2 separate regions of the Homo sapiens genome follow, and region 2 is linked to region 1. The links come from fine-mapping of genetic effects on gene expression. A gene starts in region 1. The other region holds a variant in brackets. All regions are shown on one strand. Distances are from middle to middle. Region 1 holds the start of CARNS1 (carnosine synthase 1). Region 2 holds the start of LOC124902839 (small nucleolar RNA U13).

Region 1 (4,519 bases):
TTTTCCCAGGAATCGGATGAGACAGGGGACAGGCAGGGAATGGAGGTGCCCGCCAGTCCTGCCCCGTGAAGCTGGTTTCCCCTTTCTGCAGCTGTTCCAGAGGTGCTGTGGGCTAGGTGACTGGAGACCTGAGTTCTAGCCCGAGCTCTGACTTTCTGTGTAACCTTGGAGGAGTCAGTGTTCCTCCAAGCCTCAGTTTCCAAGTTTGTACAATGGGACCAAGTCTGTGATTCTCAGGTATTCTGCCTGTGAACCCTCTGTCCACACAAAGTCTGATATATGTAACAGGCGTGGAGGGGCAGAAGGGGAGGAGTCTGGGGGGTCTCAGCTGCTGAGCTGCCTCCACCACAGCTCCCAAGACCTTTCTCTAGAAGCTTCGGTGCCACACAACGTGGTTTCCCAATCCCAGGGCTGGGTCTTTTTGGGGAGGGGGTGAGGGCAGGGAGCCCAATCCTTGACCTCACTGGTGCCAGATGCCCTTGCAAACAATGTCCGCCTACCCTAGGCCAACTGGCTGTGCCTTCCCTGCCTTCAGATGGAACCAGAGCCTAGGGGAAGGGGCCGACCTTGACAGGGATGAGCAAGCAGACTGGGCTGAGGGCCCCTCCCTGCCCCCAGAGGTGCCTCCCTCCAGGGAGCCCTTGGGCACCTGTGCGGGGCACCTGGCCGCGGTCCTGAGTCTCCGGAAGGCCAGCTTGCTGCAGACAGCTCTGCAGGAGGCTGTAGTAGTAGACAGTCCAAGCCCGGGCCTCGGCCCCCTCGGGGGATCCCTTGCAGTCCAGGCCCACGTCCTGGCGCCAGGAGCCAGGGAAGCAGCCTGTGGGCGGCAGGCCAGAGCCCCCTCCCCAGGGGCCCTCTTCCTCCAGGTCCTTGGAGCCCAGTGGGCAATCCCACTCGGGACCCGATGGATCCAGGGAGAGCTGAGAGGGCAGAAGTGGTAGGTCTTGGGCAGGGTGGGCCAGTGGGCACATTAAGTCACCCAAGGGTGTAAGCCCCCCACTCTCCCAGCCTGGGCTATGTTCAGGGCTGACACCGTCCCGGGGACTAGGAGAGGAAAGGCTTGTGTTGGGGGCGAAGGCTTGTTAATGGGAACGCAACCGTGGGAGTGCTTTGTAAACTGTTCTGTGTGGTGCCCCTGGGGGGAGGGCAGGAAGCAATGTCTTGCCAGCCAGCCCCTCCCGCCCCTGCCATGCTGGGCTCCGCCTTAGCTTGCTTCACAGCAGCAGAGTTTTCTGCTTGTTTTGTTCATGGAGGCAACCCCAGCACCTAAAGCGTGCCTGGCACACAGCCACTTCTCAGTAAGTGTTTGTTGACTGAAGAGTAGATGAATGAACGAACCCAGCCATCACTCTGAGGTGGCTTATTTCTGTCTCATGACCCGGCATGGAGTGTGCTGACACCTAAATGTGATTCCACTGTCATCCCCACGTAGGTCTTGAAGCCCTACTGTGTGCCCAGCCCTGGGCTAAACATTAGGAGGCTAGACAGTATCCCCCCTGCAGATATTTTGAGTCACGGAAATGCTTTCTTTGGATGAAACCTAACGTCCCTCCCCTCTCTGAGGCTGGCGCCCCCCCAATATGGGGCTGCTGGGAGGCTTCGTGTGAATGGAATTCTTGTTCTTTGCAGTCCCCAGGCCTGGACAGGCCTGGCAGCTGAGTCTGTCCTCCAGGGGACAGGCTCGGCCACCTTGAGCAAGTCGTGAGGTCTCTTTGGACCTTGTTGCCTGGTGCCTGCCCTCTCCCATCCCCTGGGGGCTGATGAGGCTGGGACGAAGAGAATCTCTTGGTTGTTGGGAGATGGTGTGCTGTGGCCCAGACGGCAGAGGACTGGGCCTCATGCCTGGGCTCGAATCCCAGTTTGCCAGGGCCAGAGCCTCTGTGCCGTCTCCTAGAAGGTGAGCTCCCTGAGGGGCCATGGAATGAATGAATGTCACAGGGCACTAAGAGTGCCCACCTCCCAGGATGCAGCCGCAGGGTGGGGGTGGGGGAGCTGGTCGTGGGTCTAAGCTGTCTGCAGGGGGCAACTCCCAGGCTTAGGTCCTAGGTGCTGCCTGCTGTCCTCTGGGCCCACTCTCTGCCCAGGGACTTGGGCCTTGTGGGGGAGGGACCACAGAAGACTCACCATCTCGTGGGTGGAGTGGCTGAGAGACTGATGGCAGAGACAGAGGGACAGAGAGACGAAGGAGTCAGGGCAGCCAAGTCCCTGCCTGGCCTTCCAGCCCCTAGACTTTGGGAGTGGAGAGGTGGCCGACACCTGTCCCTGCAGAGAGAGGCCAAGGCAGCCCCACCCCCACCCCGAAGGTAGGGAGGGATTTCTGCTGCCCAGACCGAGTGGCTCCTGCCCCAGTGCGGCTCACAGGTCCTTCCTGCCCTGGGGTCCGGGCTTGGCTCTGCCCCTCCAGCGCGGGGGGGAGTTGGGGGCACCGGGTCCCGGGGGTGGGGGGCGTAGCGTCGAGGGTCCCGCCGCGGGGAGCGGGCGCCCGGGGTCCTCGTCCCCGCGACTCCTGCCCCGGCCGCCCCCCTCCCTGGCTCTCCCCGGGGCGGGGCCGGAGCTGGGGTACCTGGCGGCGGCAGCGGCTCGGCGGGCGTGGCGGGCGGACTCGGACCGGGCGGGATGCAGCGGCGGCGGCGGTGGCAGTGGCACAGCGCCCGGCCCAAGCGGCGCCGCTTTATATAGAAACGCCTGGGGCATGCCCAGTGCCCAGCGGGGGCGGCGCGGGGCGGACGGACCGACAGGGACCGATAGGGACCCGCCGGGGACGCGCCCCCCCCCCCCCCCGCCCGTCAGCCACGAAAACGTCCCAGACCTGGGGGCGTGTGGCGGGACACGGACCCAGCAGGAGGAGGGCACGGAGCAGGCAGGGAGAGACGGGGGTCTTCAGAGACACAGAGGAAGTCCCGACAGAGGGCCAGGTACAGATGGACAGGGACTGTCGTCGAGGGTCACAGACGTAGGGCTGCCATGAAGAAAGAGGGAGGCCCACCATGGAGAAGAGATGGAAAGGAGGGGCGGGGAGAGCCGGAGCAGGCAGAGACTGGTACTAGGGCCCGCCCTTAGGGGTGGGGTGCCCGGGAGAGCAGCCTGGAGCACACAGCCCTGAGCCCTACCTTTGGATGGAGGCCGGAGGTCCCAGCCCTGCAGCTTTCTGTCCCAGCTGCCAGCGCTTTGCCCTATTGCACGTTCTCCCAGAGAGGCCCTCCTGGGCCAGGGTCTCCACACATCTGTGCAGCCCCCTCCTCACTTCTGGACCCAGTGGACTTGCACACAGGGGCCAGGATGTCTATAAGATCCAGCCTCTCCTGGTGCGGTGGCTGCCTATAATCCCAGCACTTTGGGAGCCTGAGGCAGGAGAATTGCTTGAACCCAGGAGTTTGTGACCAGCCTGGGCAACATAGCAAGACCCTGTCTCTATAAAAAAAAAAAATTTAAACTAGCTGGTTGAGGTGGTGTGGGCCTGTAATCCCAGCTACTTGGGAGGCTGAGGTGGGAAGATCACATGAGCCCCGGGGGTCGAGACTGCAGTGAGTCCTGGTTGTGCCACTGCACTCCAGCCTGGGCAATACAGTGAGAGCCTATCTCTCTCGCTCGCTCCGCTTTTTTTTTTTTTTTTTTTTTTTTTGAGACAGAGTTTCAGTGTGTCGGCCCAGGCTGGAGTGCAGTGGTGTGATCTCAGCTCACTGCAACCTCTACCTCCCAGGTTCAAGTGATTCTCCTGCCTCAGCCTCCTGAGTGGCTGGGATTACAGGCACACGCCACCACGCCTGGCTAATTTTTGTGTGTTTAGTAGAGACAGGGTTTCGCCGTGTTGGCCAGGCTTGTCTTGAACTCCTGACCTCAGGTGCTCCTCCTGCTTCGGCCTCCCAATGTCCTGAGAATACAGGTGTAAGCCACTGTACCCAGCCGAGACCCTATCTCTCTCTCTTTTTTTTTTTTTTTTTTTTGACCCTATCCCTTTTTTTTTTTTTTTTTTTTTTAAGACAGAGTCTTACTCTGTCACCAGGCTGGAGTGCAGTGGCACAATCTTGGCTCACTGCAACCTCCGCCTCCCCGGGTCCAGTGATTCTCCTGCCTCAGCCTCCCAAGTAGCTGGGACTACAGGTGCGAGCCACCATGCCCAGCTACTTTTGTTTTGTTTTGTTTTGTTTTGTTTTTGAGATGGAGTTTCGCTCTTGTTGCCCAGGCTGGAGTAGCTGGGATTATAGGCATGCGCCACCATGACAGCTAATTTTGTATTTTTAGTAGAGACAGGGTTTCTCCATGTTGGTCAGGCTAGTCTCGAACTCCCGACCTCAGGTGATCTGCCCGCCTCAGCCTCCCAAAGTATTAGGATTACAGGCATGAGCTACCGCGCCCAGCCCACCCAGCTAATTTTTGTATTTTTAGTGGAGACGGGGTTTCATGATGTTGGCCAGGATGGTCGCAATCTCCTGACCTCATGATCTGGTCACCTTGGCCTCCCAAAGTGCTAGGATTACAGGTGTGAGCCACTGCACCTGGCCCCCCTATCTCTTTAAAA
Region 2 (4,000 bases), 200 kb after region 1:
GACAGGGTTTCTTCATGTTGCTCACGCTGGTCTCAACTTCCTGACCTCAGGTAATCTGCCTGCCTAGCCTCCCAAAGTGTTGGGATTACAGGTGTGAGCCACTGTGCCTGGCCTTTTTTTTTTTTCCCCCTTATTTTTCTTCTCTTTACGTAGAAAACTCTTCATGCAGGGGATAAGGTACTCACTTTATGTTACTGAATATGTATTTTCCTTTTCTTCCCTGAAACTGAACCAGTGTATAAGACCCAGGTGTAAGAGTCATCTTTAACCATAAAAAGGGAACACATTCTAAAAACCAATTTTCAGACTGAATCTTAGAATGGGTACATAATTACCTCTAAGAATGACAGAGTTTTGAGGGGCGCCTCTGCCCGGCCGCCCCTACTGGGAAGTGAGGAGCCCCTCTGCCCGGCCACCACCCCGTCTGGGAGGTGTGCCCAACAGCTCATTGAGAACGGGCCAGGATGACAATGGCGGCTTTGTGGAATAGAAAGGCAGGAAAGGTGGGGAAAAGATTGAGAAATCGGATGGTTGCCGTGTCTGTGTAGAAAGAAGTAGACATGGGAGACTTTTCATTTTGTTCTGCACTAAGAAAAATTCCTCTGCCTTGGGATCCTGTTGATCTGTGACCTTACCCCCAACCCTGTGCTCTCTGAAACATGTGCTGTGTCCACTCAGGGTTAAATGGATTAAGGGCGGTGCAAGATGTGCTTTGTTAAACAGATGCTTGAAGGCAGCATGCTCGTTAAGAGTCATCACCAATCCCTAATCTCAAGTAATCAGGGACACAAACACTGCGGAAGGCCGCAGGGTCCTCTGCCTAGGAAAACCAGAGACCTTTGTTCACTTGTTTATCTGCTGACCTTCCCTCCACTATTGTCCCATGACCCTGCCAAATCCCCCTCTGTGAGAAACACCCAAGAATTATCAATAAAAAAATAAATTAAAAAAAAAAAAAAAAAAAAGAATGACAGAGTTAAACAGGAGTATTTTACTATGGAATTATACATTTTTTTTCTTTTGAAACATTTTCCCTATTTTAGAATATTTACCTATTTTAGAATAGACATCTTTTTTTTTTTTAAATTAACAGACTGTGTCTCACTCTTCCACCCAGGCTGGAGTACAGTGGCACCAACATAGCTCACTGCAACCTGGAACTCCTAGGTTCAAGCAATCCTCTCACCTCAGCCTCCCCAGTAGCTAGGATTACAGGCATGCACCACCACACCCGGCTTTGTTGCCCAGGAGAGTCTCAAACTCCTTGCTTCACATAATCCTCCCACTTTGGGCTCTCAAAGGGTTGGAATTACAGGTATGAGCCCCTGTGCCTGAACTGTACTTTTGTTACTCTTAACAAATAAAAAGAAATGTACTTTTATAAAATGTGTTGAAGAAGCACTGGCTTCCTCTCTTAATTCTACTAGTAGGGCAATTCCTGTAACTCCAACAATAATATCAATGATGTGTATAGTGATACGTAACTCCTACACCAAAATAAATGTTGCAAAATAGGCACCATAATGGTTGACTATTATTGCAGTACATAGGTCAGTGACCATTCCTATAATATATAAAAGACCATTCATATAAAAGTTGTGAATTCTTCATTAATTGTTATTTTAAAATTTTTAATACTTTTAATTCTACCAAAAAGTTTCAAGAGCAGTAGCATTAATAGTTCTACACTCTTCTCTGCAATTCTCCAACTGTTAACATTTCTCCACATCTGCTCATCTCCATACTAGCTTAGTATTCTGCTAAGCTACTTGAGAGTAACTTACAAACATCACAACCCCCAAATATTCTAATTGCTGTTTAATCCCAGTATCATCTATACTTTCATATATGATTCAGCCCTTACCAATTAGAATTCTGCTAAAAAATAAGCTCTCATTCTCTAAGGTGGAGGCTAGCCAGCAAACAACACTTAGTGGATTTGGCCTGCTGCCTCTTTTTATGATTCCTGTGAACTAGGAGTGTTTTTTACCTTTTTTTTTTTTTTTCGGGTCAGACAGGTAATGTGCTGACGTATTAATAGTAACAAGGTTCAAGGGTGGCATCTTTCACATACGTGCATGAACACCTAATCATGATCATGAACTATATAAAAGGATCGTTTTTTACATTTTTTAATGGTTGAAAAAAATTTAAGAGTATTCTGTGACATGTTAAAGTTATCTGAAATTCAACTTTCAGTGTCTATGAATAAAATTTTATATTATTTGAGCCACACTCATTTGTTTAAGTATTTCATGCTACAAGGTAGGGTTAAACAGTTACAATAGACACTTTATGACCCACGAAGCCTAAAATATTTACTATCTGGTCCTTTGCAGGAAAAGTTTGTCAACTCTTGCCTTAAGGTATCCATTGTATATAATAAATTAACTTTTTTCTATGCATCTAGAAGGGTATTAGCTGTGTATCATCCTAGAGAAAAATGA[G/T]AAAATAAGATACACAAATTATTTTATTTTGGGCTTAATTCTCTCTTGAAACCCCAGTTGAGAAAGACAGTATATACATTTATATAATTAAAGTAAGATGCTTTGAGTATAGTCATCAGTGTAGAAAAAGATACATGAATTTAAAGTTCTGAAATTTGGGTTGATAAGCCCCATTACACCAAATTATTCTGTGAGCATAAAAATGAAACACATGGCTCAAGAGATTACCAGAGGTAAATGTCTGGCCTTATAAAAATCCAAGATACTGTGGGATGCAGTAGCTCACACTTGTAATCCCAGCACTTTAGGAGGCCAAAGCGGGCAGATCACTTGAGCCCAGGAGTTCAAGACAAGCCTGGGCAACACAGCAAAAACCCATCTCCAAAAAATACAAAAAAATTAGCTGCATGTGGTGGCGTGTGCCTGTAGTCCCAGCTACCTGGGAGGCTGAGGTGGGAGGATCAACTGAGCCCAGGGAGGTTGAGGCTGCAGTGAGCCATGACTGTGACACTGCACACCAGCCTGGGCAACAGAGTGAGACTCTGTCCCAAATATTAAAAGAAAAAAATGTTACTTTTTCCCATTCACTATGGTGTTGGCTAAAAAATAAAATAAAATAAAATAAAATTTTAAAAAAAGGAAAGAAAAAGAAATCCAAGATACCAAAAACCTCACAGAATTGGAGTCCCTAAAACGGAGTATGTAAATCGTGTTAAAATTTTTATTTGGCCAGTCGCAGTGGCTCACACCTGTAATCCCAGCACTTTGGGAGGCTGAGGTGGGAGGACTGCTTGAACCAGGAGTTCTAGACCAGCCTGGGCAACGCAGTGAGACCAAGTCTCTACGAAAAAAATTAAAAATTAGTCAGATGTGGTGTGCACCCACGGTCCCAGCTACTTGGGAGGCTGAGGCAGGAAGATGCTTGAGCCTGGGAGGTTGAGGCTGCAATCATCCATGATCACGCCACTGCACTCTAGCCTGGAAAACAGAACAAGATTCTGCCTTAAAAAAAAAAAAATTAAATTTAAAATTTTGTGTGTTCCCAAAATGTCAACACTGCATTTTAACTGAAAGAAAAATGGAAGTTTTGATAAACCATCAGTGAATCTCTTGTAACATCTATCATAACTGGAGTAAACCTCTTCACATGCAACTGTTACATAAGATTACTTACCCGTGTCCGATCTTCAATGTTGTATATTTTTAACTGCATAGGGATGTTGAAGCTATGCAAAAAATTGCCCCCAAACACTAATGTGTCTGTAGGAGTATACACAGCATGAATCCAGCCTAGGAGAAGGGGAACAGAGGGCAGTGGCTGAAAACACACATTACAGTAAGTCTCTCTCAGAGAACTAGTACAAGACCCCTAGATCACACTCTTCACTCTGATTCTGCTTCTTAGTGGTTTGTCAAGTTACTTAATCTCTCAAAGCCTCAATTTCCTCTATAAAACCAGGATAAATAATACCTCTTATGGTTGCTCATGAGCATTAAATGAGAAAATGCACATCAAATGCTTAGCACATAATAAACGTTTACTGGAGCACCAA

What was found. PIP is the estimated chance that this variant, and not a neighbour inherited with it, causes the effect. A credible set is the group of variants that fine-mapping cannot tell apart.
Region 2: its variant is the best candidate, but not a certain one, in a credible set for the expression of CARNS1 in whole blood (INTERVAL, PIP 0.65).

The regions. Positions count from the first base shown.
Region 1 is chr11:67,413,808-67,418,326 of GRCh38, reverse strand. CARNS1 (carnosine synthase 1) reads right to left here and starts at 2,649. Exons shown (of 10, transcript NM_001166222.2): 1 at 2,564-2,649; 2 at 2,125-2,151; 3 at 650-920. The coding sequence starts at 2,127. RefSeq lists an enhancer at 1,076-1,911.
Region 2 is chr11:67,219,025-67,223,024 of GRCh38, reverse strand. KDM2A (lysine demethylase 2A) reads right to left here. Exons shown (of 21, transcript NM_012308.3): 10 at 3,622-3,737. It overlaps LOC124902839 (small nucleolar RNA U13), which reads right to left and starts at 2,117; the gene lies at 2,009-2,117. RefSeq lists an enhancer at 1-767. The variant G/T (reference allele first, on the strand shown) is at 2,448.